Regions from separate parts of the Homo sapiens genome. Here region 1 is linked to region 2. The links come from fine-mapping of genetic effects on gene expression. A gene starts in region 2. The other region holds a variant in brackets. All regions are shown on one strand. Distances are between the middles of the regions. Region 1 overlaps CYLD (CYLD lysine 63 deubiquitinase). Region 2 holds the start of SNX20 (sorting nexin 20).

What was found.
Region 1: its variant is fine-mapped to the expression of SNX20 in whole blood (TOPMed, PIP above 0.99).

Annotation. Positions count from the first base shown.
Region 1 is chr16:50,748,911-50,765,537 of GRCh38, forward strand. CYLD (CYLD lysine 63 deubiquitinase) reads left to right here. Exons shown (of 19, transcript NM_001378743.1): 3 at 666-1,292; 4 at 2,694-2,996; 5 at 5,409-5,514. The coding sequence starts at 789. Among named protein-coding and RNA genes, the nearest start is that of CYLD-AS1, 14 kb to the left of the region's middle. The variant T/C (reference allele first, on the strand shown) is at 7,100.
Region 2 is chr16:50,677,945-50,693,883 of GRCh38, forward strand. It overlaps SNX20 (sorting nexin 20), which reads right to left and starts at 3,368. Exons shown (of 4, transcript NM_182854.4): 1 at 3,246-3,368. NOD2 (nucleotide binding oligomerization domain containing 2) reads left to right here and starts at 15,662. Exons shown (of 12, transcript NM_001370466.1): 1 at 15,662-15,718. RefSeq lists an enhancer at 6,072-6,421 and a silencer at 15,382-15,891.

The DNA of each region.
Region 1 (16,627 bases), 71 kb after region 2:
CAGAATATGGGACAGGCCTGGTGGCTTACGACTGTAATCCCAGTGCGTTGGGAGGCCAAGACAGGAGGATTGTTTGAGCCCAGGAGTTCAAGACCAGCTTAGGCAACATAGTGAGACCCTGTCTCTACAAAAAATAGAAAGCTTAGCTGTGTGTGGTGATATGCGTCTATAATACCAGTTACTCGGGAGGCTGAGGTAGGAGGATCACTTGAGCCTGGAAGGTCTTGGCCACAGTGAACTGTGATTGTGCCACTGCAGTCCAGCATGGGCAACAAGAGTGAGACCCTGTCTCAAAACAAATAAATAAAAATAAATTAAAAAAAGTTAGAATATGTATATAAGGGTAATCTTTAAAAGTTTTTACTAGAATCTGATTTTATAAATTTCAGTGTCTTGGAAGCAAACATTGTGTTGTCTTTGAAAGTACTTTACAATTGGATTTCATTAATTAAATATGCACAGTTACAGTAGATAAAAGTAATACAGTATGTATGTCTTTTAGCCCTTTTAGATATTTTTTGAAAATATTTCATTTGTGTGTATGTGTTTACTGGTCAAATGAAAATTTTAAAAGTCTTCAGTCTTAATTTTCAGTCATGTAGAATGAAGTCTAAAGTTTATTTTTGCTTTTTCACTAGGCATTTTGATTTCCTTTCTTTTTACAGCATGGACACCACGTTGCTGAAAACATGCTTTGGGACTGCCACTGAATTTATCTTTTGCGGTTTTATGACAAAGTTATTAGTAGTTTCCCTTTTTTGAATTAGTATTTTGAAGTTAATATCACAATGAGTTCAGGCTTATGGAGCCAAGAAAAAGTCACTTCACCCTACTGGGAAGAGCGGATTTTTTACTTGCTTCTTCAAGAATGCAGCGTTACAGACAAACAAACACAAAAGCTCCTTAAAGTACCGAAGGGAAGTATAGGACAGTATATTCAAGATCGTTCTGTGGGGCATTCAAGGATTCCTTCTGCAAAAGGCAAGAAAAATCAGATTGGATTAAAAATTCTAGAGCAACCTCATGCAGTTCTCTTTGTTGATGAAAAGGATGTTGTAGAGATAAATGAAAAGTTCACAGAGTTACTTTTGGCAATTACCAATTGTGAGGAGAGGTTCAGCCTGTTTAAAAACAGAAACAGACTAAGTAAAGGCCTCCAAATAGACGTGGGCTGTCCTGTGAAAGTACAGCTGAGATCTGGGGAAGAAAAATTTCCTGGAGTTGTACGCTTCAGAGGACCCCTGTTAGCAGAGAGGACAGTCTCCGGAATATTCTTTGGAGTTGAATTGCTGGTAAGTTTGATAAACCATTTTAGTAGTGTGTTTGTTTGTGTTCATGTGTGTCTGTGTATTTGTATGCACATACATATTTTTCTCCTTAAATACGAAATAAATTTTCCCAAGAGTCTTCTGTAATTTTTAATATTCATCATCCTTGCTGATGAATCCATGTTGTGGTTGAATCCATAATCCAAAACTTGCTTATAGTTGTCACTGATAATATGTGTGAAAATCACCTTGGCGTTTATTTCTGTTGGAAAGAGACCCAAGAACTCTGTGATATGTTTCCAAGCTTAATATTCATTCTTGAGAACTTAAATGTCAATTATATTTTGACATTCTTGCAAATAGAATTGTATGCCTTCTTTGCTTCTTGATTTAATTTCTTTTGTTTACTTTTTAATGATGAATTGCGAAGATGTAAAGATGATGTCGAAACTTAAAAAACTATGTACTATGGTAGGAACATACAAAGAGATTCACCTGGCTATTGCAGACATATATATTTTAGAAATTTTAACATTGCCTGTATTAAACATGAACGCTACCAGTTGTAAATAGTTACATAAAAAATTGTTAATTACCTTGCGTTATCATCTATAGGTTTCTTAGTTCTTCTTAATGTATGTTATTAAATAACAATTTAGATATAAGATTTTTGAAAAAAAAGTTGCAGAAATTTAAACTTGCTTATAATTGTCCCCGATAATATATGTGAAAATCCTTAGAATTTATTTCTACCGGAAGGAGACCCAAGAATGCTGTGATATGTTTCCAAACTTAATATTCATTCACAAGAACTGAAATGCCAATTACATTTTGACACTCTTGCCAATAGAATTGCATGTCTTCTTTGCTTCTTGATTTAATTTTTTTTAAAAGCAGTGATTGTAAACAATTAGGAATTTGAATCCCAGTTAAGCCATTTACTAGCTGGGTTGCCAGGTTACTTAACAAAGCTACTTAACTTCTCTCATTCTGCATCCTTACCTGTACAATGGTGTTAATAGTACATGACTTGTAGTGTTTTTGTGGTACATTGATGCAGGATTTAAGCACAGTGACTGACAATAAGTGCTTAATGAATGGAGCTAACATTACTGCTATTTTAAAGTAACATTTTCTTTTTATAACCAAATTAATGTTAGAATCACAACGTGGAATTCAGCCTAGCTTTCTCATGATAGAGTTATGAATTGAAATTATCAGATAATATTATTTCAGCATCAGATACAACTTCTTATTTTTTAAAACACTCTAAATCCAACAGAAACTGCTAATAATTGTATTTCTTATTATATGTATCATTTAGAAATTTTCCAGAGTGATTTTCCTGAAATCCCTAGAGTGAACCCCTTTTCCTATGGATCGTCTTTCTATATCTATTTCTTTCCCTTCTCTCTTAAAAACTAGGAAGAAGGTCGTGGTCAAGGTTTCACTGACGGGGTGTACCAAGGGAAACAGCTTTTTCAGTGTGATGAAGATTGTGGCGTGTTTGTTGCATTGGACAAGCTAGAACTCATAGAAGATGATGACACTGCATTGGAAAGTGATTACGCAGGTCCTGGGGACACAATGCAGGTCGAACTTCCTCCTTTGGAAATAAACTCCAGAGTTTCTTTGAAGGTTGGAGAAACAATAGAATCTGGAACAGTTATATTCTGTGATGTTTTGCCAGGAAAAGAAAGCTTAGGATATTTTGTTGGTGTGGACATGGTAAGAAAATTTTGGATTAAATATCTTTGTGATATATATATTAGTTTATATATATATGTATATATATATATAAACATATATATACACACATATATATACACACATATATATGTATAGTTTATATATATATGTATTAGTTTTAGGACCAATTTACTTGCAAATTGAACACTTTGAATATTTAACATGATCTAATTTGGAGTACTTTAAAGAACATGTTCTAATTTATCTTTGGTAAAGGAGCATTGAAATAGAACAGGGGTCTAGATACAGATTACATTTACTTTTTTTTCCCATTTGAATAAACTAGAATAATGTTCTCTATCTTTAAATTTGCCTTATTGTAGCTGACCAGTAGACAAAACAAAACAAGACAAAACACAATTATATTACTTGAAGTCCTATTTTTCTTTATTTTGAAACAGTTTTTTGGGGTACTCCATTTTTTTGTGATATTCTACACAATTTAATGGCTGATCTGATTTTAATAATTAGTATAATAATCATTTATAGAAAATACCTGAGTAGAGGAAAACCACATTGATTTTGAGGAATAGACAATCAGAATATCTCATAGGATTTCATTCATTTTAAAAACCTTTTTTAATTGTGGTAAAATATACATAACAAAATTTATCACTTAAGCATTTTTAAGTGTGCATACAGTGGCATTAAGTGTATTCACATTGTTGTACTGTCACCTGTTCATCTCCAGAACTTTTTCATCATCCCAAACCGAAACTCTGTGCCTGTTTTAACAGTAACTGCCCACTTTCCCCAACCTCTGCTAACCACAATTTCTTCTGATTTCTCTGTCTGAATTTGCCGGTTCTAGGCTCCTCATAAGAGTGGAATCATACAACATTTGACCTTTTGTTTGTGTCACTTATTTTTAATGTTTCCTTACAATCATACTTTTTAATAATGGATCCATTCCAGTGTGGTTCATTGGATTATACCTGTGGCACTGAAAGAATAAGAAGAGAAAGGCTGAGACCATTTTTATCATATATTGAACATATGGGCAAGACTTTGTTATGTATAAAGAAGGAAATTCATATGGAATTACTGAACACTAGAATGAGTTAGGAGGCGATGTGAGTAGTAATCTCTTATACTCACAATGGGGATGCTTTTAGTCATCATTTTTATCTGCTCAGGTATACTTTTTGGTTGGTAAGGTAATGTTCTAGTGTAATGGTTTCCTGTGCTTGAAAATTCCAGGAAATTCTATCTGATACTCATTGGTTAGTTACTAAACAAACGTTTACTCTTAACATGTGAAAAGTTAGAACCAGAGTAAAACATGTATGCCCCTCAGGATAGCTGACAGTAAAGCACTCCTTTTAACCAATATTCTTTAAATAGTAATTCAGTCTTTATTTCAAGGAGAATTGTGGCCTTCATGGAGGGAAGATTGGAGAAAGAGGGCCACTGGTCATTGGGGTTGGTCTCCCCTTGCATCAGGCTCTTTACCTTGGGCCTCAAACTTGGCAGAAGCTGTTTAGGGTTTAGGCCTTGCCTTTTTCAGATGGCGGTCTGGGGTCAGCTTGTTTACCTGAGGCAAGCTGCCTAGAGATTTGCCCTGCCAGCTTCTCTCCTTGCCTCCATCTGTCCCATAGCTGACTTGTGCAGATATTCATTCCAAACACTTCTATTATAGTCCTTAAGAGGAAAGTTCTGGCAAATGCTAGAACTTCTTTCTTTATCTCCTTTTCCTTCTATTCATCCTTTATTTCCAGGGACATTTTAGCATGCCATGCACATTGGTGCCCAGGGCAGTTGTCTGACTGGCCCGTCTACTGATGTAGTTCCCTGTACAGCACAGTGCTAGTTGGCACTATATTAGAATATCAGATAATTAAATATAAACATCTCCATCTTGGAGAAGATTCCTATATGCTCATAAATGACAAAAGAACAATTAGAAAATAGACTTTTTATGTACAGAAAGGCATACAGAAGTTCAGATGGACTATTTAAATGCTCAGGGAATATGAAGAACTTAGGGCTAATTAGAGGCAGGTTTCTGGGTGAAATAATATATTATTAATGAAACTTCCTGTGCAAAATACTGTCTTTTTAAACCTCAAATGGGTGTTATCCTACAGATTAGTATTTATTGTTCAGTAAAGTATGAAAAAAACACTTTCAATTCTTTGCTTATCTGGGGGTTTACTATCACTTGGTTATTCTTGAATCTCATTTCCCTAAAGAAAAAAATGAACAAACCAATGAAAAAAGCAAAACCTTATTACTATGGCAACTATTCCTAATGTATTCTTTCTTTCTTTTAGGTAAAATTGTTAACATTTACCAATGTAAAATATTTTGGAGGATTCTTTATGGAAAATACAGACTTCCACATTTACATTTCATTGAGGAGGATTTTAATGTTTATTATTTAATTTCTAGGATAACCCTATTGGCAACTGGGATGGAAGATTTGATGGAGTGCAGCTTTGTAGTTTTGCGTGTGTTGAAAGTACAATTCTATTGCACATCAATGATATCATCCCAGGTATGTTTTCTTTGTTTTATACATTTATAAGGCAAACTTTATTTTTTAATTTTTTATTTTTTTATATCAATATGTTTTGGGGGAACAGGTGGTGTTTGGTTACATGGATAAGTTCTTTCGTGGTGATTTCTGAGATTTTGGTGCACCCGTCACCCGAGAAGTATACTCCGTACCCCATGTGTAGTCTTTTACCCCTTGCCACCCCCCATTCTTTCCCCCTGAGTCCCCAAAGTCCAATGTATTATTCTTACACCTTTGAATCCTCATAGCTTAGCTCCTACATATAAGTGAGAACATACAGTGTTTGGCTTTCCATTCCTGAGTTATTATACTTCTCTTAGAATAATAGCCTCCAATTCCATCCAGGTTGCTGTGAATGCCATTATTTCATTCCTTTTTACGGCTGAGTAGTATTCCATGGTGTATGTATATATATACACACACACATATGTATATATATATACGCATATATACATATACACACATATATGTATACATATATACACACATATGTATATATACACACATATATACATATACACACATATATGTATACATATATACATATATATGTATATATACATATATATGTATATATACATATATATGTATATATACATATATATGTATATATACATATAGATATGTATACATATACACACATATATACATACATATATACACACATATACACATGTGTATATATACACACGTGTACATATGTGTGTATATACACACGTGTACATATGTGTGTGTATATACACACGTGTACATATGTGTGTGTATATACACACGTGTACATATGTGTGTATATACACACATATGTGTACTACATTTTCTTTATCGACTTGTTCATTGATGGGCATTTGGGCTGGTTCCATATTTTTGCAATTGCAGATTGTGCTGCTGTAAACGTGCATGTGCAAGTATCTTTTTCCTATAATCACTTTTTTTCCTTGGGTAGACTCCTAGTAGTGGGATTGCTGGATCAAACGCTAGAGCTACTTTTATCTTTAAGGAATCCCCACACTGTTTTCCACAGTGGTTGTACTAGTTTATATTTCCACCAACAGTGTAAAAATGTTCCCTTTTCACCACATCCATGCCAACATCTATTCTTTTTTGATTTTTTGATTATGGCCATTCTTGCAAGAGTGAGGTGGTATCACATTGTGGTTTCGATTTGCATTTCCCTGATAATTGATGATGCTGAGCATTTTCCCATATGCTTGTTGGCTATTTGTATATCTTCTTTTGATAATTGTCTAAAAGTGGGCTAATGTCCTTAGCCCATTTTTTGATGGGATTGTTTTTTTCTTGCTGATTTGTTTGAGTTCTTTGTAGATTCTATATATTAGTTCTTTGTAGGATGTATAGATTGTGAAGATTTTCTCCCACTCTACTGATTATTTCTTTTGCTGTGTAGAAGCCTTTTAGTTTAATTAAGTCTCATCTATTTATCATTTTTGTTGCATTTGCTTTCGGGTTCTTGGTCATGAAGTCTTTGCTTAAGCCAATGTCTAGAAGGATTTTTCCAATGTTATCCTCTAGAATCTTTATGGTTTCAGGTCTTAGATTTAAGTCT[T/C]TGATCCCTCTATAAGGCAAGCTTTCTAATATATATTTTGAGTACATAAATGTAAGCTTCAAGATATATTTTTAGAACTTGACTTTTATATTATGGAATTGTTATTAAATAGGATATCCTTTACCCTCAAATGAAAATAATTAAGATTTTTGTTTCCAGACGTATATGAGTATAAGGGTGGCATTAATATGTTTTCATTCACTTTTTCATCACCTGTCCATTCTTAGTGGGGGAAAAACCCTTCCTGTTAATTAGAAGGATCGGAAAATGTAATAAACTGCTACCTGAGTGAGAGCTTGGTTTAAACTAGAAGGCTTTACACAGACATTGGTCATCTAATCTAATCTAATGTACTGTGGAGAAGATTCTTGCTGGATAACCTGTGAGATCCCTTTTAGTTTTGAGAAGGTGTGATTGATCAGGGATCAGGACTCTAGTCAGAAATAGATTGCTCAACTTTACATTTAGAAGAAAAATCAAGCAATCTTTTATTTTGCCTCTAACAAGTAGCACCTAGTGTCTGCTGTCAGGTAATTGACAATTTCTGTTGATAACAGCATCAACAGTTTCATCCCCCTGCTGTTAGTGGAACTCTCTGTGATACAGGCTAGTGCAATAAAGCCAACAGTGGCAGTCAGAGATGGTGATTCTCATTGAGCATTATGCAAGTCTGATTAAAATGTCAGAAGGCCTGCAGGCAGACTGTAGCCAGGAATGTACCAGGCCCTGAGTTAGACGACTTAATACTTTTTTACATTCTTAACAAACTTATAATGTAAGTCTTAATGATCCCCATTTCGCTGATAAAAAGCTGGGGCTCGGATGGACAACAATTACCAAAATCAAAGTAAATAGTAGAGCCAGAATTTAAATCCACACCTGTCTGATTAGAAAGCTGTGCTCTTTTCAGTACCTCCCCACCCCAAATCCTATCTGTATATTTAGGATGTGAAGACCTGCATAGAAAACCATACTTCTCAGTCTCACATGTATACTTGGGAATATTGTTTCCATGGAGATATATTTTGTCTCTAATTCTATAAAAGCTGAATTTTGCTATAGCAAGGATCACAATTGAATAAGCAAACTGAATTGTTTTTTTTTCAGGTCATTTCAGGTCCTCAGTTTCTTTTGTTGTAAAAATGAAAGGGCTAATACTAGATGATTCTTAAGGTTCCTTTTAGCGTGCACTGTTTGCGCTTCCTGTTTTCCTGTTGCTGAAGCAAGTAATCAATGCTTGTTTTTCAAGTTAGGGCATGCTTTCTGCTTTAGTTTTTAGCTTTACAGCAACAGCACATTAATTTAGTTGGAGGTATAGGATTCAAATGATAGCTTTATTTCAATTTTACTTCTTCAAAGTGTGACATACTTTGCTTTACTTGATGTTTGTAAAATCAATTTTTAATTTATTGCAAATTGAATTCCTAGCTATTTTTTATTTTGCTTCCCTTTGGGAACAAATGATTTACATTCAGGAAAAAGCATATATGTGCTTGATATTTTACTTGGCAAAATTTAATTTAGTTTTTCATGATTTTTTTTTTTGAGACGGGGTCTCGCTTTGTCGCCCAGGGTGGAGTGCAGTGGCGTGGTCTCTGCTCACTGCAAGCTCCGACTCCTGGGTCCACGCCATTCTCCTGCCTCAGCCTCCCGAGTAGCTGGGACCACAGGCGCCCGCCACCACGCCCGGCTAATGTTTTGTATCTTTAGTAGAGATGGGGTTTCATCGTGTTAGCCAGGATGGTCTCAATCTCCTGACCTCATGATCCACCCGCCTCGGCCTCCCAAAGTGCTGGGACTACAGGCGTGAGCCACTGCGCCCGGCCTAGTTTTTCATGATTGTTAATGGAGATAATACAATTTATTTTATGAATTAAAGTACTTTTAAATATTATAATAAATGCTTATGGTTTACAAAACAGTTTAATAAAAGGCCATTCCTTCATTCAAATATTATTAAGCCCTTACCTAGATGTTGGGGATATAGTAGGAAGCAAAACTGGTAAAAATTCTTCTCGTGTGGAGTTTTCATTCTAGTGAGTGGAGACAGACAGTAAATATGTAATGTGTATGATCAATTACATGATAATAAGATGAAAAATGATAAACACAGTGAGGAGGAAGGGAGCACTAGGTTGTAGGGCGGGATTTTTCGATTTCATGTAGGGTAGTTCTGATAAACCTTCTAATAAGGTGACATTTGAGCTGTTGACATGAAGGAAGTTTGGGAGAGAACATGTGGATTCCGAGGGAGAGCCCAAGGCCGCAGCCAGCGTGGCCAGTTTGAGCAATGTGAAGAGTTGACTGTGGCTGCGGCAGATGGAGTGAGGGAGAAAGTTGTAGGAGCCGCAGTGGGAGCTGGAACAGGTAGTGCTCAGTGGGCTGTTGTGTGGATTCTTGGCTTTCATAGTGACAGAGGTGGGGAGCTATAGGTGGGTTTTGAACAAAGGACAACTCACCCTAATTTGCATTTTTAAATGATCTCTCTGGCTGCCTGTTAAGAATAAACTAGACAGAGGACAGAAACAGGGAGACCAGGAAGGAGACTGTTGTAGTTATCCACGTGAGAGACGGTGGTGGCTGGGACTGGGGTGGTATGAAGAGGATGGTAAGTGAAGGATTTGGATATAATGTAAAGATCCCATCAAGATTTGCAGATGGGTTGGGTGTGAGGTTTGAGAGAGAGAACAGAATCAAGGATGATTCCAAGGTTTGGACTGAGCAACTGGTAGGCTGGAGAGGCAATTTACCCAGGTGGGAAAGACAACAGGAAGAGCATGCGTCGGGGAGTGGGAGTTGGAAGTCAGGATCTTGGTTTTGATCATGTTAAAATTGAGTTAGCTATTAAACAATTTCATTTGAATGTTTATGTTAATATTATACGAATTCATGTTTAATCCTTAAAAATGGGCAATGTGCTCATCATTTTCATATTTAAGAAACTTTTGGCTGGGTGCAGTGGCTTATTCCTGTAATCTCAGCACTTTAGGAAGCCGAAGTGGGCAGATCACGTGAGGTCAGGAGTTCGAGACCAGCTTGGCCAACATGGCGAACCCCCCCGTCTCTACTAAAAATACAAAAATTAGCCAGGCGTGGTGGCGGTCACCTGTAGTCCCAGCTACTCAGGAGGCTGAGGCCAGGAGAATCGCTTGAACCTGGGAGGTGGAGGTTGCAGTGAGCTGAGATTGTGCCATTGCACTCCAACCTGGGTGACAGAGCGAGACTCCATCTCAAAAAAGAAACTTTTTACTGTAGAATGTATTTGCAAAAGTATATATAACAACATATATTAAGAATAATAATGAACACTCATGAAACTGACCATCTAGGTTAAGAAACAGAACATTAGAAGTACCTTGAAAACCACCTGCAATACCTTGTTTTCATTATAATTGCAATCTCTCCCTAGAGGTGACCATTATTCTGATTTTTTCATTAATTATTTCCTTGCTTTTTATAATTTAATTATATCTCTGTAGCTAAACAATATACTGTTTAGCCTGCTTTTGAACTTAATGTAGTTAAAATCTTACTGATTTTTAAATTACTTGCATCATTTACTTAAAATGTATTTTGAGATTCTTTTCTGTGGATGAGGGCATTAGTAGTTTGTTCACTCTCACTGCTTCATAGTATATTTCGTCATGTGACTATCCCACAGTTTGGTGCCCATTGTAATATTAATGGACGCTTGGGTTTTAGGTTGTTTCCACCTCCTTTTCCACACTTGGTACTGATTAAAATTTTTGCCAGCCTGACAGCTGAGAAATGGTATCTCAAGGTGGTTTAAAAGTTTGTAGTTCCCTGATTACAAGTAGGATTGAACAGCCTTTTATATGTTTATACAACATTTGTGTCTTCTATTAAACACGTATTTTTTGCCTGTTTTTCTGTTGAGTTGCTCATTTATTGATTCATGAGTTCTCTAGTTTTAGAATTTTAATAAAACATCTTTTAATGTTTTGTTATGACATTTTAAACAGAAAAACTGAAAATTTTATATTGAGCATCCTTATGCATATCATCTAGATCCTACAATCAACATCTTACTTGCTTTATATGTATCTGTCCACCTCTCTATTCACGTACTTATCCGTCACGTTTTCTTGTGCATTTCACATTAAGTTGCAGATACCAGTTCACTTCCTCCTAAATACTTCAGTGTGCATCTAATTAACTAGAGATAAGTATTTAGGGTTTTCTTTTTCATTTCAGATAGAAGTCACACATATAATGACATACATATGGATTTATTTGGGTTCTAACTAATATATATATACCCTTGAATTAGAAACCTCTATCAAGTTATTAAAACAATTTTAAGAAGAAATCATTCATGTATCTCAAATCAAAATTAAAAAGTACAATAAAATATCTCATTTCCATTTTTATCCCCTCTGCCTCAGTTGCCTGCTTACTCCATCCTTCGTTTCTCACTAGTCACAGTTTTTATGAATTTCTTATATATCTTTCCAGTGTTTCTTTATACAATATAAATATTCTTATTCCCCCTTCCCTTTTAATTCAAGAAGTGTAGTAGATACACTATTCTGCTGTTTGCTTTATTCTCTTAATTTTATATGTTAGAACTCTTTGTATATTTGCAAACAGAGGTTCTTGTTTTTTATAGTGTATAATTTTCCATTGTACGGAAAAAAATTTCATAATTTATTTAACCAGTTTCCTATCAATGGACATTTGGGTTGTTTCTGACTTTTTGATATTGCACACAATGTTACCGTAACCTGTACATGTCTGTTTCCCACATGTGCTAGCATATCTGGAGGATATATATATTCCCAGAAGTGGAGTTGCTTGATGAAAGGGCGTATGCGTTGGTATTGTTCTGGATATTGTTAATTGCCTTCAGTCGTAGATATAACAATTTATATTCCTGCCAGTAGAATACAAGGGGGAACTTATAGCTTTCCCATGAGAGTGTGTTACTAACTTTTTTCCCAATCTGATAGATAAAAAATATATTTCAGTGTATATAATACATTTGCAAATAGAAATTTGCATTTCTCTGAGTGATGTTGAACATTTTTGCATATGATTAAGGGCAATTTTTCTTTCTGTGAACTGTTTGCATCTGTTGCCTATTTTTAAATTGGGTTAGGTTATTGGCCTTTTTTCTCACTGATTTCTTCATGTGTTAGGGTGGCAAACTCTTCTGTGATGCGAGATGCAAATGTTGCCCACTCTTCCACCCTCATTTGTCATTTGTCTTTTTTTAAAATTGCTTATTTTTCTGGTCACCCTCATTTGTTTTTATTGTGGTAAAATATACCTAACAGGATGTACCATTTTAACAATTTTTAAGTGTATAATTCAGTGTAAGTATGTTTACAGTTGTGCAACCATCACCACTATCTATTTCCAGAAATCTTGTTCATTATCCCAAATAGAAACTCTATACTCATGAAGAGATAGCTGCCGGTTCCTCTTTCCCTCCAGCCTCTGCTCATCTCTGTTCTCTGCTCTCTGTCCTTATGACTTTGCTTACTCTGGGTATCTCATATTAGTGGAATCATACATATGTCCTTTGGAGCTGGTGCATTTCACTTGGTGTGATGTTTTTGACTTTGGTGCTTTTTGCCTTGCAGGATTTATAAAATTTTTATGCTGTTGTATTCTTTTAGTTTTAATAGATTCTGGATTTTGAGTTACTGTAAGGTTATAAAGGAATTTCCCTGTGTTTTCTTCTAGTACTCTGTGGTTTTAGTACATATCTCTATATCTATCTATCTATCTATCTATCTATCTATATCTTTGACCCATTTCTGTTTTATGTGGTATATGATGTGAAATATAAATCCAATCTAGTTTTTATTTTTGCCCACAGGTAGAAGATACCCTGTTGTCTTAGTATCATTTATTAAAAAGTCCCTCTTTACTGGTTTGAGAGGCCACTTTCATCATACTAAATTTCCACGTGTAGCGTGGTATATTTCTGGACTTTCTATTCTGTCTTCCCACGTTTCAATACCACATTGTTCTTAATGATTTTTAAAAAATTGTATATATTCATGGGGTACAAGTGTAATTGTGCTACACTACTGTATTGCATTGTGGTGAGGTCAGGGCCTTCAGCACATCCATCACTGGAGCAATGCACATTATACCCACCAAGCAACCTCCCATCATCCACCCCCCGCCACCCCAAGCCCCCTTTATTCATCTTTCCACACTCTGCTTCCACGTGTGATTCTTTATGTGTTTTAATATTATTAACACTAGTCTCCTCTCACTGTTCTTTTGAATTTTCCTGTTCTATACTGTTTTCAAAATAGTAGTCTTCTTGATAGTTTTGCGTTTTTACATTTAAGTGTGTTATTCACTTAGATTTGGTTTTGAACAGGATATGAAATATGGGTACAGATATCCAATTTGACCTTCCATGCTTGCTGCGTATAAATCAAGTTTCCAGATGTACACGTGTGGATCTTTCTGAGCCCTGTCATTTCCCTACACTAAAGCCTATCCATAGCTTTAGAAGTCTTGGTAGCTGTGAGAGTACATTTCCATTGTTTGTTTTCTTAATGAATGTCTTGGCTATTGTTAGCCTTTGGGCTTCATTGTAAGTTTAACTATCAGCTTCTCAAATACTATAAGAGAGTTCTGTTAGGATTTTGGAATTGCAATTAATCTGTAGAACAATTGGAGGAGAATTGACATTTCTATGATATTAAAACTTCTAATATATAAACCTTGTGTATCCTTTCATTTATTTAATTTCCTTTTGGTAAAATTTTATAATTTTCTCCATGAAGAGCTTACTTGCATTTTGATGCATTATAAAGCATATTTTCTAACAGTGTCATGCTGATGTAGAAATACAATTGACTTTTTTTTTAGAAAACAGCTTTACTGAGATCTAGTTTATAATTCACTCAGAGTGTACAAATCAGTGCATTTTAGTGCATTTACAGACATGTGCAATTGTCAAGATAATTTTAGAACATTTTCATCACCTCTAAAAGAAACGCTGCACCCCTTAGTGATCATCTCCCAAACCCTTCATCCTTGTTTAGTCCTAAGCAACTACCAGTCTACTTCTGTCTCTGCATATTTGCCTTTTCTGGACATTTCATTTAAATGGAATCACATTATATGTGGTCTTTTGTGATTTACTTTTTTCACTTAGCATAATGTTTTCAAGGTTCCTCCATGTTGTAGCATGTGCCAGAATTTCCGTCCTTCTTAAGGCAGAATAATATTCCATTGTATGGACACATCACATGTTGTTTATTAATCAGTAGATAGATATTTAGGTTTTTTTTTCACCTTTTGGCTAAAATGAATAATGCTGCTACAAACATGCATGTACAAGTTGTTGTGTGGACATATGCTTTTGTTTCTCTTGGGTTTATATCTAGGAGTGGAATTGCTGAGTCATATGATAACTCTATGTTTAACCATTTGTGGAACTGCCAGACTGTTTCCCAAAGCAGCCACACCATTTTACATTCCTACTAGCAGTGTGTAAGCGTTTTGGTTTCTTCATGTCCTTGTCAATACTTGTTATTATCTGACTTTTTTATTCTAGCCATCCTAGTGGGAATGAAGTCATTTTCAATTGACTTTCGTGTGCTGATTTTTCTTACAAACAGACTTACTAAAATATCTTATTCACAATCCATGGATTACTTATAAAATATTCAGTCATTATAGTTTGCACATAATAACAGTTTTGCCTCTTCTGAATTCTTTTATTTTTAAAAATGGTTTCTTACTGTCCTAGCTAGGACCTCTAAATACAATATTGAATAGAAGTAGTGATGGAAGGCATCTTGGCCTTTTTTTCTGATCTTAAAGAAAATGCTTTCAACATTTCATTATTAAATGTGATGTTTGCTATAGAGTTTTATTGTTGTATCTGTCATTTATCAGGTTAGAGAAGTTACCTACTGTTCCTAGTTTTCTAACAGTTTTATCATGAATTGATGTTGAATTTTATCAACCCCTTTTTCTCTATTGAGATAATCCTATTTTCTTTTAATCTGCTAATTTTCTTATATTGAATCAACCTTACATCCATGATGTAAACCCAACCTCCTCATGATTCATACTTTGCTTGGTCCAGTTTGCTAGTATTTGCATCCTGTTTTTAAAATCTCTGTTTATAAGAGATATTGGCCTATACTTTTTCCCTTTTAGCTGTCCTTGTCTGGTTTTGGAATCAAAGTCGTGCTTGTCTCATAAAGTACCTGGGAAAGGTTTCTTTTATTTTGTTATTTGAAAGAGTTTATGTGAGATTAGAATTACCTATTCCTTGACTATTTGACAAAGCTTCTTTTTGTGGAAATGTTTAGCTACTGATGAAATATCCTTTAACATTTGTTTGTTTTTGATTGTCTTTTGCAAGTTTTATTTTTTATGAATGTATCCATTTAATTCATTTTCAAAGCTTTGGGCATAATGTTGTTTATAAAAGCCTCTTAATTTTCTGTTCAACCTCAGCAGCATCTGCCCTTGTGTTCCTATTTTCATCCAAAATGTTAATCATTTGTGCTTTCTTATATTCTTCACCAATCTTACCAGTGGTTTCTGACTTTCATTTTTTCAAAGGACCAACTTTTGGCTTTCTTAATTCTTTCTAGATATACTTGTTATTGTTTAAAATATGCTACTATTTTTACTGTGTAACTAGTGCATTTTTTAGGTCTAAGCCCGTAGTTCTCAGCCTGGGATGCTTTTGTCTCCTGGGGACATTTGGCAGTGTCTGGAGATTTTTGATTGCCACATCTGAGGTGAGAGTACTACTGGCCTCTAATGCATGGAGACCAGTGATGCTTCTAAACTTCCTACAGTGCACAGGGCAGCCCTACACAACACAGAATTATCTGGTTCAGAACCTTAGTAGAACTGAGCTTGAGACACTGTGTCCTAAGCAAATTCTAGGAGTTATGCTCATTTTATAATGTTAACTTGCTGGATAGCTATGGGGGAATCACTTGAAAAACAAATTTTCTTTCATTATTTATGTATTCTTGCAGGGATAACCAATTCTATGCTAATATTGTTTTTCCCAGAGTAACATGGCTAAATGTAATTTCACTTGTCTTACGAAATCAAATACAGGCATACCTAATTTTATAGCGCTTTTCTTTATTGTGCTTCACAGATATGTGTTTTTTATTAATTGAAGGTTTGTGGCAATTCTGCTTTGGGCAAGTCTGTCAATGCCATTTTTCCAATAGCATGTGCACACTTCGTGTCTCTGTGTCACATTTTGGTAATTCCTGCAATATTTCAAACTTTTTCATTATTATTATATCTGTTATGGTGATCTGTAATCAATGATCTTTGAGGTGACTATTGAAATTGTTTTAAGGCACCACAAACCACACCCATATAAGATGACAAACTCCACTGATAAATGTTGTGTGTATTCTGACTGCTCCACTGACTAGTGGGGCCTCTGTCTCTCTCACTCCTTGGGCCTCCCTATTTCCTGATACCCAAAAATATTAAAATTAGGCCAAGTCATAATCCTACAATGGCCTCTAAGTGTTCCAGTGAAAG
Region 2 (15,939 bases):
GCCTGTAATCCCAGCGCTTTGGGAGGCTGGGTTAGAAGGATCACTTGAGCCCAGGAATTTGAGACCAGCCTGGCCAATGTAGTGAGACCCCGTCTCTAGAAAAAATAAAAAAAAATTATCCAGGATGCACGCCTGTGGTCCCAGCTACTTGGGAGGCTGAGACAGGAGGATCCCTTAAGCCCAAGAGACTGAGGCTGCAGTGAGCTATGATGATGCCACTGCACTCCAGTCTGGGTGACAGAACAAGACCATCTCAAAAAGAAAAAAAGAAAGGTCAGTGTTCAGAGCAGGTAGATACTGGTATGAATCTTCTATCGATCAATCAATCAATAATCTATCTATCAGCAAAATTAACTGATAGCTTATTATACCCACTTCATACCCATCTAGGTTCTCCATAGCCCCTAATCTAGTTTAATGCTCACAAAAGTCTATCATTACCACCACATAACAGATGAGAAAACTGAGGTCTAAAGTCACGCAGCTGGTGAGTGTGCGCAACAAGCAAAGCTGAATTTGTCTCCAGTGCTTGTGACGTGCTGGCTGTGCACTTCACACCCAGCACACACTCTTGCACTAACCTGAACACTGTCTGCACTCAGGACTGTTTACATCTCCCTTTTATGATAAGGGAACTGAGACTTAGAGTTGCCAAAGATGAGGAGCTGGTGAGTGGTGGGCAGGATACAGACCCAGGCTGGGCTGACTTCAGAATTCTCTCCACCTTACTCAGGGAGGGAGAACAGGCAGCTGGGATCTGGTTTACATAATAACTCTGTCTGTGACCCGGATAAGTGGAAGGGATGACCTGGTAGCTGGCAAGTGACTCAACTTCTCTGTGCTTCTGTTTCCTATAAATTGGGGATAATAACAGAACCCACGTTCACAAGGCTGGGGTGAGGATTCAGTCAGGCAGACTCTGAAGCCTCAGCTCAGGGCCCTGTCCATCCCAGGGACTGTGTAGTACCCCCGCTTTTAGTGTCTGTTAAGTGCTAGATGTTTCCAGAAATATTTGTGAAATAAATGACTAAATTAAGGTGGATTGGAATAGAATTACAAATGTTTGAGACAACTTAGAGAAAGGGACAATTAAAACATTAGATCGGCTGGAGGGAGTAGCTGGTATACTGACTGGTTAGGCATGGAAATTCAAGACAAGGAAGGTGCAAATGACCTGAGGAAGCTGCCAGTGGAACATAGAGGTAGAGCTGGGACTTGAACTCTGATCTGTTGGATTCTGGGCTCTTGGTCTGAACCCCTGGGCTGACTACGGCCTAGAGAAAGATAGAGCCAGTGCCTCCCTGGCACCCCCTGAGCACAGATGGGGGCGGGAGTCATGCATGTCCCTGAGCACAGCCAGCGCCTGTCCCTTGCTCCAGGGGTGAGAGCCGCTGGCCTGGGAGAGGGGAGGTCAGCTGGGGCCTGGAGCCTGCACTTCAGGGGGAAGTGCTTGCTGTGTCGGGTGAAAGGAACCCTGGGGCCTTCTCCGTTTGGCTCTGCACAGCCATCCAGTGGGCGGCCCTCAGGGACCCTCGATCCAACCTCACCTTTTACAGATGGGCAAACAGAGGCACGGAGCAGGGGCCTGGCTGGCCCAGGGCTGCACGTTCTTGAGCATGCCGTCACGGGCACCTCTCGCTTGTCTCTTGTGCCTGTCAGGGAGTCAGGAGACATCGCCTTCCATCCTGACCAACCGTGTGTCCTTAAGCAAGTGCTTTAATATCTCTAGGCTTCAGTTTCCCTACCTGATAAATGTGGCTACAAGCCCCGTCCTGTTGATAAGATGATGGATGACTAGGGGTGGGTTCCCTACATTCTGACTGGTGCCTAAGTGAGACAGTGGATGGTTTACGTGATTCTTGGTGGCTGGGATTCTTGGGGGCCCAGGGCACTCCTATGCTCAGCACTTCTGTAAAATGGGTGATGGCGAGTGGCCTTGGCCTCAGGGGCCCCAGCCTTTGCAGATCTGCTTTCATGACCAGGCAGCTGGCTCCAGGTCAGAAGCAGGGCACTATTGGCCCAGAGACCCTGTAAGACCCTAGAAATGATGCCTCGGCTTGACACTCCAGTAAAGACTGAGAAAGCTGATTATAAAACCAGGCCTTAGAATAAAATCAAATTCAGCAGCCACAGTCAGCTCCCTTATGGTTGTCTCTTACAGGTTTCATTGGGAGTCACCCATTTAAAGAGGAGGGGGAAGGAAAGAGTTGTGCACTGGTGTATCCATGGGGCCTTGGGTAGCTTCCCATCCCTCTCCAGGCCTCAGTTTCCTCATCTGTGAAATGGGAAAGCAATCCTGTCACTCTAAAAGCTCTCTGGGGATAGCCACATAGACGGTTCCATGGCCCTTTCCTTCCCTCTCCTCACCCTCTGTAGCAAAGATTTCTTGACTTTATAACAAAATACTAAAAGTGTTGTTGCTGTTGGCCTGGGGGCCTGTAGTTGGCCCAGGGGACAGAGCAGCTTCCCAGCCTCCTCTGCCTTCCAGCCGTGTGTGCACAGACAGTCATTCTCCTCCTCCTGTCCCCAGGTGTCCTAACCACCCCCTCTCCAAGAGCTGACTGCCAAGTCCAGTCCTTCTTCTGCTGGGCACACAGAGGCCACACTATCTTTCTGAGGGCCTGCGGAGGACTTTTCATGGGGGATGAGCCTCTAGGGGGTGAAATAAAGCACATGGCCCACGCTGGGAGACAGAGATCCCAGGATGTTGGATGTGTGGCTGCCTCTCTTGGGGAAAGGGTGGGTACCCTCCAACAACTGGACGCTCACCTGAGAAGCCTTGCCAAAGCCAGGGGCTCCCAACCCAGTGTGTGTAAGAATCCCCTGGTGGGGTGGGGGTGGGATCCCAGGGGCTTGTCCAAGAGCAGGTTTCCTGGCTGCTAACATAGGAAGGTGCCATTGAACAGGCCTGGATTCTGCATTTTCCATGAGTCCTCTAAGGCTGTGCTGAGGCAGGGGTTCCCTGACACTGTTCTTTTGAGAAACACAGGTGTGGTGACTTATTCTCCAGGCCCAAGATGGGTTGTACAAGCGCCTAGCATTTCAAAAGGAATGGAGGTGATGGAAGGTCCAGGAGCTGTCCCTTCCTCTGCCTCAGTGTGCTAAGGAGAGCTCCAGACACAGTGGCTGTCACTAACTCTTCCCCCTCCCACCCTGCCCCCAGCAGGTGCCAGGCAGGGCCCCAGGAGAAGGGGACTCAGGCCACAGCAGGCAGAGGACAGCTGAGCTTGGGATCAAATACTGACCTCCAGTCTCCAGGGCTGTGTGTGTCCAGGGGTCCGGGAGGAGTGTCATATGGCCCCTTCGAGCTCTTGGTTCTCAGCTCCGGCGACAAGCCGAGGGGCTGCCACTTTCTAAGTTCCCCGTTTGAAAACAGGAAACAGGCTGTGTGACCTGCTTCTGATCGCCCCAGCCCATTGGCTGGTGAAACATGGTATATTGAACTCAACTGCCAGCCTGCCAGCTGTACCCACCTCTTCTTCCGGGTAGCGCAGGGAAGGGCAAGGCGGTGTGGGGCCAGCCCTGTGGGATTTAGCTCAGCCTCACTTTCCCTGCCGCCTTGCAGAGGTCTGGCTGTCCTTCGAGTCCCCGTTGATCTCTGGAATTCAGGCATTAGCTCCCAGAGCCCTTTAACATTCATTATTCTACTCTATGAGCTAGGCATGATGGGGGCCGTCATGCCCCTTGAACAGATGGGAAAACCGAGGCTTGGATCACAGAGCTGGTGGGACACAGAGCCAGTGACTGACATAGAAGAGCAGTGGGGTAGAATTACAGTTCCATCTGGTGCCTTTTCTCTGAGCAAAGCTGTATCCATCACCACCAACAGAAAGTCCCAGGGAAGCGAAACCCCAGGGCAGTGTGGTGTGATTCATGCCCACCCATCTTTGTGGCCTTGAAGGCAAGAAACAGAAATCAGACAAAAAAAAAAAAAATAGAACTTTGCTGGCTCGCCCAGAAGTTTGCCATGTGTTTTTTTTTGAGCCATGATTCCCTTCCTCCCTATTAGAGGCAGTCACAGTCCTGATTCAGATGGGGGTTACTTCTTGGCTTTTCCTTAGAAATTTACCACCTATGAGATCCCCAAACAATTCAGTTTCATTTTACTCATCTGTGAATCTTATATAAATTGAACCATGCATACTGTGTGTATTCTCCAGTGCCTTGCTTCTTTCATGCAACATTTATGGGTATAAGATTCACTGATGCATTTCTGTGTAGATACTTTTTTTCATTTCCATTGTTGTGTTGCTACATTATTATTATTATTTATTTTACTTTAAGTTCTGGGATACCAGTGTAGAACCTGCAGGTTTGTTACATAGGTATATATGTGCCGTGGTGGTTTGCTGTACCTATCAACCCATCATCTAGGTTTTAAGCCCTGCATGCATTAGGTATTTGTCTTAATGCTCTCCTTCCCCCTGGCCCCCACCCCTGACAGGCCCCAGCGTGTGATGTTCCCCTCCCTGTGTCCATGTGTTCTCACTGTTCAACTCCCACTTATGAGTGAGAACATGCTGTGTTTGGTTTTCTGTTGCTTCATTATTTAAATACATCACCATTTGTCATTTTTTGTTTTGTCTTTTGATGCACACTTGGGTTGTTCCTAGGGTGGCCATCATGATCAATGCCACTGATGATATTCTTACACATTTATCCAAGTCCATGTACTTATCTGAGGTGAAATTGCTGGGTCTCAGAGTATAGATAGCTTCAACTGTGCTAGATTACGCCAAATATTTTCCACAGTGGCTGTGCCATTTTGTATTCCCACCAGCAGTATATGAGAATTCCAGGTGCTCCACCTTCTTACCTGCACTTGATATGGTCATTATTATAATTATTTTAAAGATGGGGTCTTGCTCTATCACCCAGGCTGGAGTGCAATGGTACCATCATAGCTGACTGCAACCTAGAACTCCTGGGCTCAAATGATCCTCCCACCTCAGCCTCCTGAGTGGCTAAGACTACAGTTACGTCACCATGCTTGGCTAATAAATTTTTTTTGTTTCTGGAGGGATAGACCATCATGGCCACTATGTTGCCCAGGCTGGTCTTGAACTCCTGGCCCCAAGCAATCCTCCTGCCTTGGGCTCCCAAAGTACTGAGATTACCAATGTGAGCCACTGTGTCTGGTTTGGTCAGTGTTTTTCAGTGTACCACTGCATTAATGTGCAGTGGTCTCTCATCAAGGTTTTAAGTTGCATTTCCCTAAGGACTAATGATGTTGAGCATCTTTTCATGGGCTTATTTGCCATCCTTATACCTTCTCCAATGAAGTGTCTGTTCAAGGTCATTGCTCATTATTGACTTGATTATTTTTAATGGTTTGTAGGTGTTCTTTATGTATTCATTTGGGTTTATGTGCTTCTCAATATCCTTTTCCATCCTGCAGTTTGCATTTTGTACTCTCTTAATGGAGTTTTGTGACGAATAGAAGTTGTCAACTTTAAAGAACCATATTAGTCCTTTGATATGGTTGAATTTCAACTTTCCTAATTGCAACATGAAATTTAATGAAGTCCTCCTAGTGCCAAAACATTCCGCCTTGAGCCAGTGTCATCCTTGGAGGGCATGAAGGTTTCTCCTGTATTTGCTTCTGCAACAAGCTCATAGGCTTGTGAACCTCAAGAGGAGTTCAGATGAGCCAAACACTTAGAACAACACTGTTCCGAGCTGTACAAGTGCTGGCAGTTCTTACTATTCTAAAACCGTTGCTGCTTGTCTTTTTCATTGGAGGCTCTATAATGTCCCTGTTTACCTATTGACCTTGCTTATTGACATGGCCCTGCAATTCCACCTCTCTGCAGTGCCGTCACTGTCATTAAGAACCTCCACATCTGCAAAGGTCTGTCTCTGGGCAGAGCTCACGAGGAGTGCCATGAGTGGTGTGCCTCTGGCCTGCTAGCTGGGGCACCCCGTAAGTGCAGGGGCCATAGGTCGGTCATCTCCGCCTCCCCCTGCCCAGCAGAGGGCCTGGTGGTGTGGCTCCCTGCATACAGTGAGGCTGGAATGCCCTCTCCTCCCTGGGTTGTGTCCCGTAACTTTCCAGTTTTCTCGCCTACTCTCTGCCCAGGCCTGGAATCTGCAAGACACCAGGGTGGACTCTAAGCCTTTCTCTGCAGCCCTGTGAGCCTCTCATGCTGCAGAAGGCAACCACAGGGGAAAAATGTGTGGTTGCCGCCACTTCCTCTTATGGGGAAAGGAGACGTTTCTTGGAAACCCCCTGATGGAGAGGGGCCTGGCCTATGTCGGTAGGACCCAGCTGAGCCAGAGTGACCGGAAGATGCCACGCATGGCCACCTGTTGGATGTTGCTTTTTCTCTGCAGCCAGAGTTCTCTGTGGTGGAGGCAGAAGGCATAGGTAGTGTCTTAGCTTGGGCTGCTGTAGCAACACACCGCAGACTGGGCGGCCTAAACAACAGACATCTCTTTCCCACAGTTTTGGAGGCTGGGAAGGCCAAGATCAACGTGTTAACAGATTCAGTATATGGGGAGGGTTTGATTCCTGGTTTGCAGATGGCTGCCTTCTTGTTCTATCCTCCCATGGCAGAATGAGGGCTAGAGAGTGCTCAGGGATCTCTAACCTCATGGCCTAATTACCTCTTAAAGGCCTCACCTTTTTCATTAGGAATTCAATATATGAACTATATGAACTTGGAGGCCACATACTCAGTTCATAACAGGCAGACAAGGTCCCATCGTCATGCGGGGGACACAGGAGTGGGCATCCTCCATTGCAGCGCTGAAGCCAGATGGCGAGGAGGGTCACCACGAGGCACCAGGAGTGAGAAAGGGGAAATACTAGTAGTGTCTCAGAATCTGATGCCTCTCCTAGAATTCAAAATCAGAGCACCTCTCCATCTTATTTGGACCCTTCAGTGGCCTCCCACCACATTCAGAGTAAATCCGAACTCTCTGCTGAGGCTTCCATGATCTGCCGCTTACCGTTTGTCACTCGGTCCACTCCCAGTGTCACCTACCACACACCAGCCAACCCAGACTGCTCTCTGTTGCTCAAACGTGCCTTTGTTTTCGCAGTTCCTTCAGCTGGAAATACCCTCCGCTTGGTTTTTCCATCTCTGGCTTATCTCATCTCATCTCATCTCATCTCATCTCATCTCATCTCATCTCATCTCATCTCATCATCTCATCTCATCTCATGAAGCAGCAGCTTCACTTTCGCTCCTCCATGCAGCCTTCTTCTGACCCCTCTGTCGAGATCTGTCCTTGTTTTGCTTATTTGTATACTTGTGCAGTTCCTGTCTCAAATGCCACAATGGCAGGGACTTTGTCTGTATCATTATCTGTGTCTCTAGCACCCAGCACAGTGCCTGCCACATAGTGGGTGCTCAGTAAGTCATTGTGTGCATGAATGAATGGCGGGGTGAATGCAGAGAAGTGGTCACCGAGGCTGTGGCTGCAGCTCAGCCCTGACTCATTGTGTGATTCTGGGCAGGCCACCACCCTGTCTGATTTTTGGCTTCCCTAATTGCAACATGAAATTAAATGATGTCCTTTTACCACCAAAGCATTCTACATTGAGCAAACAATTGAGTACTAGAAGCTACCCCTCACTACCGCTCTGGATGCCTGACATGCTTGGAACTGCAACACTGGTACGCCTTCTTTGAGAAATTCAACAAGAGTGTATCGGTCCCAGGTGTGCCTCTCAGCGCTGGTAGAGCAAACCACAACTGGCCAGGTGTTTTTCGCAGGTGACACAAAATTTGATCTTGTCAATCTTGTTTTTCTGCAGCTGGATGTGCCTGTATAGCTTTTTATTAAATTTCAAAGGTTCTTAATATTGCAGGATTTAAAAACTGGGGTTGCAGACAGAATGCACTGTGGGGCACCGCTGTGGTTATATTGAGACATGGCAGGGTGGGGCTGGGTACAGGCCCATTTATTTCTACATTGCAGGCCGCGGGAGCTTCAGTCACCATTACTGAACTTCCTGGTCTTTGTCAACCTCAGGACTGTCAGAACTGCTGATTGTGTAAAGATTCATGGCTAAGATTAGGAGAAAATCCAACTTTTCTGATCAGGAGAACATACACCTCCCATTCTTGGGACATCTGTTTGGGCAAAGGTGCTGATGAGCAGTTTGGGTGGGGTTAAGGGCCATCAGGTCCATTGTAAATCATTTTAAGGTATGTGCCTTGCACAGAGGACCTAAAAAAGGGCAGCAGTGGGCCGGGCACGGTGGCGGATCACGAGGTCAGGTGATCGAGACCATCCTGGCCAACATGGTGAAACCCGGTCTCTACTAAAAATGCAAAAATTAGCTGGGCATGATGATGCATGCCTGTAGTCCCAGCTGCTCAGGAGGCTGAGACAGGAGAATTGCTTGAACCCAGGAGGTAGAGGTTGCAGTGAGCTGAGATCATACCACTGCACTCCAGCCTGGGCGACAGAGTGAGACTCTACCTCAAAAAAAAAAAAAAAAGGCAGCAGTAATGCTAAAAATCCAGCCCTGGCTCTTCTGTTCCAACCCGGCACTTCTGACCATGCAGATGAAGTTGGCACTTGTGTCCACACATTGGAAAAGAAGAATGATATGGTCTTCTGTGAGTTAATTAATAATGGAGGAGTGAGAAACTGATTTTCAAAGACAACACCCTCAGCCAATGGAACATTTTATTTTGCTGAAGTGGGGTTTGTAAGCTTGGGGCTAGAATGGCAGGGTTTGAGAACAGAGGGGTGATTCTAGAAACAATAAGGCGGAAGGGAAGGAGAGAGAGGAGGCACAGCACGGGGTCTCAGGAGGAGGCTTAGGCAGGGGAGCTGGATTGTGTTTTCAGGTGTCTGATCTTCCTGCCCAATGTACTGATGAGCTTGGAATTGGGTTAGGACCTGAGGTGGGGAAGTGACAGAATGCTGGGTCTGGTCTTGAGGTAGGAATGGGGCAACCTCAGAGGCTGCCCAAGAGATGCAGGCACGTCAGGTTCCCAGGCTGGAGGCTGCTCTGTGGAGAGCTGCCTGCTCCAATGTGTCCTTCTTTCAAGCATTGTCCCTCTGTCAGTAAGTCACCCATGGATAGGGCGCAGTGGCTTACGCCTGTAATCCTAGCCTGGGAGGCTAAGGCAGGCAGATCACCTGAGGTCAAGGGTTTGAGACCAACCTGGCTAACATGCTGAAACCTTGTCTCTACTAAAAATACAAAAATTAGCTGGGCATGATGGCATATGCCTGTAGTCCCAGCTACCTGGGAGGCTGAGACAGGACAATCGCTTGAGCCCAGGGGGCGGAGGTTGCAGTGAGCTGAGATGGCGCCACTGCACTCCAGCCTAGGCAACAGAGTGAGACTCCACCTCGGAAAAAAAAAAAAAGTCACTCTGAAAACAGACTTGGCCAAGCACTGGGCCAGAGGCTGAGGTCCAGCAACAAGGAAGGGACAAGGAAGGGATACCTTGAACCCTCAGAGACTGGTGATACACAGGACGGACACATGGAACTTGGGCCAACAGTGTTGGACCGTCTCGGCTGATGGCCAACAGGAGAACAGGCAGGCTGATCTTTGCAGCTGAGAGGACTGGGAGAGCCCACAGGGACTGTGGGGTCTGGAGAGCTTCCTTGCAGGAGGTGGGCATGGAAGGTCCAGATAAAAGCAGGTAGAGAAGGACGTGGACTTGACTCATAGTCCCACCATTCCATAGCTGGGTCATCTTAGGAAATTCATGATCCTCTTGAAACCTCCGTTTCTTCCTGTCAAAGATGGGGATGAGGAATGGAACCTATTCCATAGAGGTGTTGTGAGAGTACACGGCGTGGCATATGGCAAGTGTTCAATAACATATTCACACTGTGGTGTGCTCACTGTTTACCAGGCACCGAGTCCTAGTGTATGCATCCCTCATGACAAGATCTAAGTGGACTGTCATCCTCACTTAACTGTGAGGGAGACTGAGGTCAAGAGAAATGAAATGACTGGCCAAGAGCATACAGCCGCTAAGGAGCAGGGCTGGAATTCAAATCCAAGTTCGCTGGGGCCAGAGTCCTTGCAGTTGCCACCTGTTGCCTCTGCCTGGGGCACAGAGTGAGCAGAAGCTCACAGGTGGGAGTACTGAGAGCTGCGGGAAGTTGGTGAAGCTAGGGGTGCAGAGATGTGGGGAGGGAAAGCCATTCCTGTCTTCATCCATTTGGGCCAGCTTGTGGAAGTGTTTGGACTTTGGTGAGTGGGCGGGCTGCTTGGAGCAGAGGACCACCAGCGTGGAGACTGCAGCCCACTATGAGGCCGGGTTACCACCACTGTCAGCAGCAGCAGCCGCCGTCGGTCCTGGGCTGAGCTCCTACTATCCAGGCCTGCTGATGGGGGCAGTCCTCGCTCCTGGGGGAAGTGCTCAGGCACAGGCAGCTTCCCGGCCTGGAAGAATTTTGAATGACACAATCCAAGGATTTCTCTCCTCTGAGGCCCGGGGGATTCTGGAAGCATTTTCCCTCCGCCTCTTCTGAGCACTTCCTGCACGGTGCCCATGTCAGAGCACTCAAGGACAGAAATGTCTCCAGGGCATCCCAATTGCCTGTCTCGGCAGAGGGCCCTGCACACAGGGAGTTTTTAATCAATATCCCTTAACTCATTGGAAAGTTTTAAAAAATTATTATTAAACAAGTAAATTATGCTTATTAGGAAATACAGGTTAACACAGAAGAATTTTAAAAGTCCAGTTAAAATCCGATCCTAACTTGTCTTTTAGATGTTTCAATGCATATATTCACACATATCTATTACAGAATTTTTGTATAAAGTATGAGGTAGTAGTCCAAATTCATTTCTTTTGCACGTGGATATCTAGTTTTCCCAGCACCATGTGTTAAAGAGATCATTTTTCCCCTTTGAATTATCTTGGCATCCTTGTTAAAAAACAACCTACTCTTTAAATTTAGCCTTATATTCTTTCTACACAAAGCATTTGGCAGCCCAACTGTTTTTCATTGAGATATAATTCACATACCATAAAACTCACCCTTTTAAGGTGTGTAATTCACTGGTTTTTAGTCCATTCACAAGGTTGTGTAACCATCACCATGATCTAATTCCGGAATATTTTCATCATGCAAAAACAAAACAAAACAAAACAAAACAAAAACCAAACCTCATGCCCACTAGCAGTCACTCCTCATTCCTCCCTCCTCTCAGTTCCTGGCAACCAACAAATCTACTTTCTGTCTTCATGGGTTTGCCTATTCCGGACATTGCATGTAAACGGACTTACACAATAGATGTCATTTTGTGACTGGCTTCTTTCACTTAGCATAATGTTTTCAAGGTTCATTTATGTTGTAGCATTTATCAGTACTTTGTTTTTTTCACAGCTGAATAATATTCCATTGCACAGATAGATCACATTTTCTTTATCCATTCATCAGCTGAGGGACATTTAGTTTGCTTCCACTTTTTCCTCTTATGAATAATGTTGCTATGAACATTTGTGTACAAGCATTTGTGTGCATATATGCTTCAATTCTGTTGAGTATACCTAGGAGTAGAATTGCTGGATCATATGGTAACACCATGTTTAACTTTATGAAGAACCCACAAACTATTTTCCACAGTGGCTTCACCACTTTACGCTCTAACCACCAATGTATGAGGCTTCCAGTTTCTCCACATTATTTCCAGCACTTGTTTTCTGTCCTTTGGACTAAGGGCACCTTTGTGAGTGTAAAGTGGTATCTTATGGTGGCTTTGATTCACATTTCCCTAACAATTAATGATGTTGAGCGTCTTTTCATGTGCTTGTTGGCTACTTACATACGTTCTCTGAACATTTTCAAATCCTTTGCTCATTTAAAAAGTTGTTTGTTATTGAGTTTCAGGAGTCCTTTATATATTCTGGATATGAGTCGTGACTATTTTCTCCCATTCCGTTGGTTGTCTTTTTACTTTCTTGATCATGTCTTTCAAAGCACAAAAGCTTGGAATTTTGATAAAGTCCAACTTATCTATTTTTTTCTTTGGTTGTTTGTGCTTTAGGTGTCAAATCTGAGAAATCATTGCTTCATCCAAGGTCACAAAGATTTTCACCTATGTTTTCTTCTAAGATTTTTATATTTTAAATCTTGCATTTGGGACTTTGATCCATTTTGGGTTAATTTTTGTATAAGGCCTGAAGGAGGAATCCAAATTCAGTTCTTTTGCATGTGGACATCTAGTTTTCCCAGCACCATTTGTTAAAAAGACCACTTTTTTCCCCCTGAATCATCTTGGCATCCTCGTTCAAAAAAGAGTCTACTTTATAAATTTAGCCTTATATATTCTAGGCAGCTTTCTATCTGATAAACATACTTATAGCATCTTTAAAAAATAAATATCTATTGAAATATGACAAGCATAAAGGAAAATATAAATATCATGTGTTTAACTTGGTCAGTTTCACAATGTATTTGCATCAATGCAACCACTATTCAGAGTAAAAATAGGAGATTACTGGCACCCCAGAAGTCCCCTTCACTCCTCCCCTAGTCACTACCTCCAACTTTCTCCCCAGTGGTAGCCTCTATCTTGGCTCCTACCTGTAATGCAGTTTTGCCTGCTTTTGAACTTTATAGAAAGGATACCATTCCGTATGCACGCTCTTGCACTCAGCCTGTTTCACCCAACATTATGTCTGTGAGGCTGCAGTTCTCGTGGGGGTACAGTGATTCATTTATTTTCATTGGTTATTAGAACCACAGCATTATTTTTAGTATATTCACTCAACAAAGATTTATTGCATGCCAGGTCCTGTTCTAGGCCTTGGGAGAAGGCAAGGGACAAAGCAAAAATTCCCTGTTCCCTTGGAGCTCATGCTGTCTTGGGTGAGAGACCAACAACAAAGACAATAAATAAGTAGAATACATAATGTGTTGTGTGCAGATAAGCGCTATGGAGAAAAATACAAAATAAAGCAGGAGAGAAGGGATTGGAGGGTGTTGCAGCTGTACACCGAATAGTTAGGGAAGGCCTTGCCGAGAAAGTCATATGGAAGCAAAGACCCAAAGGAGAGGAAGGAGGGAGCCAGGTAGATTTCTAAAGAAAGAGCATTCCAGGCACAGCAAAGGCAAAGGCCTGAGTGTAACTGCAGGTTTGGCATATTTGAGGAACAGCCAGGAGGCCAGTGTAGCTGGAGCAGAGTGAGTAAGATGAGAGTGTAAGAGGTGGGCAGAGAGGGTGCCAGAGGCCAAACAGCAATTGTAAGGACCTTGGCTTTTACTTTGGGATGGGAGCCATCAACAGAAGAGTTTCAGCAGAGGAGTGATAGAATTTGACTTAAAACAGCAACAACGACAACAACAGCAAAACCAACAGACTCACTCTGGCTGCTGGATTGAAGAAGGGCTGTAGATGGAGGCGTGGAGAATGGCCAGGAACTCCTGCTATCACCCAGGTGAGAGATGATGGAGATGTGGACCCAGGTGGTAATGGTGCATATGGCAAAAATGGGCTGCAGCTTGGAAATATTTGAAGGCCAAGCTGAAAAATTTGCTCCCAGATTGGATAGTGGGGCTGAGAGAAGATGGGTCGGGTTAAGTGTTCTAGGTTCAGATGTTCTGTCAGTTTTCTTAATTAATTTTCTGTTACTGGGCATTAGGGAGGTTTCTAGCTTCTCACTGCTGTAGGCAAGATGGTGGTGAACATCCTTGTAGATGGTTCTGTGCGCTGCCCAGAATGAATTTTCTAGGGTAGATTCAGTCCTTCTAATGCAGCATTTTCCAACCTTGGCTGACTGTGCACCACCTGCACAGGTATTTACTTGAAAGCGGTATGGGGTAGTGGTTAGAGCATTCATCTGTGCCAGAGGCCTGGGGCAAATCCCCATCTCTGGTGCCAGAGGAAAGGGGGCATCTCGAGGCTGGGGAGGCCCCTGGCAGGAGTGAGAAGTCCTGAGGAGCCCGGGCTTCAGGTCTCAGAGGGGGCCACTGTTTTTTGAGTACCTTCCTCTCTGTGGGACTCAGTTTCCCCATCTTCACCATGCCAGTGAGTGGGTGGGTGTAAGTGAGCGAGTCTGCCTGGAGGATCCTACTGCTGCTCTCTGCACCTCTTAGGGGAATCTCCTGCCTCCTCCTTCTCCCTTGGTGGGCGTGAGATCAAAGTTCAAATGTGTACCTCAGTTTCTGCATCTATAAGTTAGAGGCAATAATAGTCAATACCCTAGAGGTGGAAGTAACTGAGTTACTGTCTGTAAAGACTAGCACATGGTAAACACTTTCTAGATGCCAGTTATTTTCGTTATTTTTAAAAATTGACTTCACATTTTTTAAAACAACCAAATATGAGTTTCAAAAGGAACATTTACATTAACATGTTAAATGGAAAACCGGTGTCATTTGCTCCGGAGAACAGAAGAATGTAAAATAAAATATATTTAATGGAAACAAAAACAATGCTATTAAAGCTAATTAGATAGTTTCAGAGCCAAGTAATCTAGGCAGTGCTAGAAAGGTACTCAAACCCTATTAGTACTAAACTGAGAAATAAACTCCATTCAACATAAACGGAAAAACTGAAAGGAAAATGAAAAAAAAGAACCTTAAATGACCAGTCCACTCTTACCTAACATGTAACCTGTCACACTCTGGAAAAGTTTTCCTAGTTTTGGCTGTGTGTGCGTGTGTGTGTGTGTGTGTGTTGGGAAGTGAGGCGTGTGTTGGGAAGCGATGTGTGTGTTGGGAAGCGATGTGTGTGTGTTGGGAAGTGGGGTGTGTGTATATTGGGAAGCATGTTTGTGTGTGTTGGGAAGCGGTGTGTGTGTTGGGAAGTGGTGTGTGTGGGGTGTGGTGTGTGTGTGTTGGGAAGTGGTGTGTGTGTGGGGTGTGTGTATGTGCACGTGTGTGTTGGGAAGCAGTGTGTGTGGGGTGTGTGTGTGTTGGGAAAGCAGGGAGTGTAGTGTGTGTTTGTGTTGGAAAGTGGTGTGTGTGTGGGGTGTGTGTGTGTGTGCACGTGTGTGTTGGGAAGCGGTGTGTGTGGGGTGTATGTGTTGGGAAAGCAGGGTGTGTGTGTGTTGGGAAGTGGTGTGTGTGTGAGTGTTGGGAAGCAGGGTGTGTGTGTTGGAAGTAGGGGGTGTATGTGTATCGGGAAGCATGTTTGTGGTGGGGGGAAGCAGGGCGTGTGTGTGTGTGTATGTGAGTGTTGGGAAGCAAGGTATGTGTGTTGGGGGAAGCGAGGGCTGTGTGTGTATTGGGAAGCATGTTTGTGTGTGGGGGGAAGCGAGGGCTGTGTGTGTGTATTGGGAAACATGTTTGCGTGTGGGGGGGAAGCAGGGCGTGTGTGTGTGTTGCGAAGCGGTGTGTGTGTGGTGTGTGTGTGTGCGCGTGTGTGCTGGGAAGCGGTGTGTGTGGTGTGTGGTGTGTGTGTGTGTGTATGTGTATGTGTTGGGAAGCGGGTTGTTCCGAGGACTCCCCGATTCCCTCCTGGTTGAAACGTGGCCCAGAAAGAGAGGCACACTGGCTAGGGCACACAGCCAGGGCCGTCCAGCCCCGCAGGAAGCCCCGGTCCTGCCCTGTCCCAGGTAAGCCTGGCCAGCCCTGGAGCCGGCGCTGCGGGGCTGCGGGGCTGCGGGGCTGCGGGGCCACGGGACAGGAGCGGGTGCTGCGGTCCCGGCAGAGCAGGGGCGGGGTCCGGGCGGGGGCGGAGCCGAGCGCCCGCGCACCCGGAGCCGCAGCCCGAGCCGGAGCCGGAGCCGGGAGTCGTGGCCCGGAGTGGGCCTTGGAGTCGGCGCGCAGGCGGCTCGCGGTGAGTGCTGTGCCCAGCGCCTGGGGGTGGGCTGGGGGGAGACTGTGGGCGCCGAGGGTCCCACCCCCGGGACTTGAACACTTGGCTTCTGAGCCGTCCTGGCCGCAGGGCTTGGGCAAGGGTTGCCTCGGTTTCTCCTGGGGGAGTCCCAGAATGTAGATGGGAAGTGAGACGGAAAGGGGGCATCTCGAGGTTGGGGAGGCCCCTGGGCCACTCTTTTG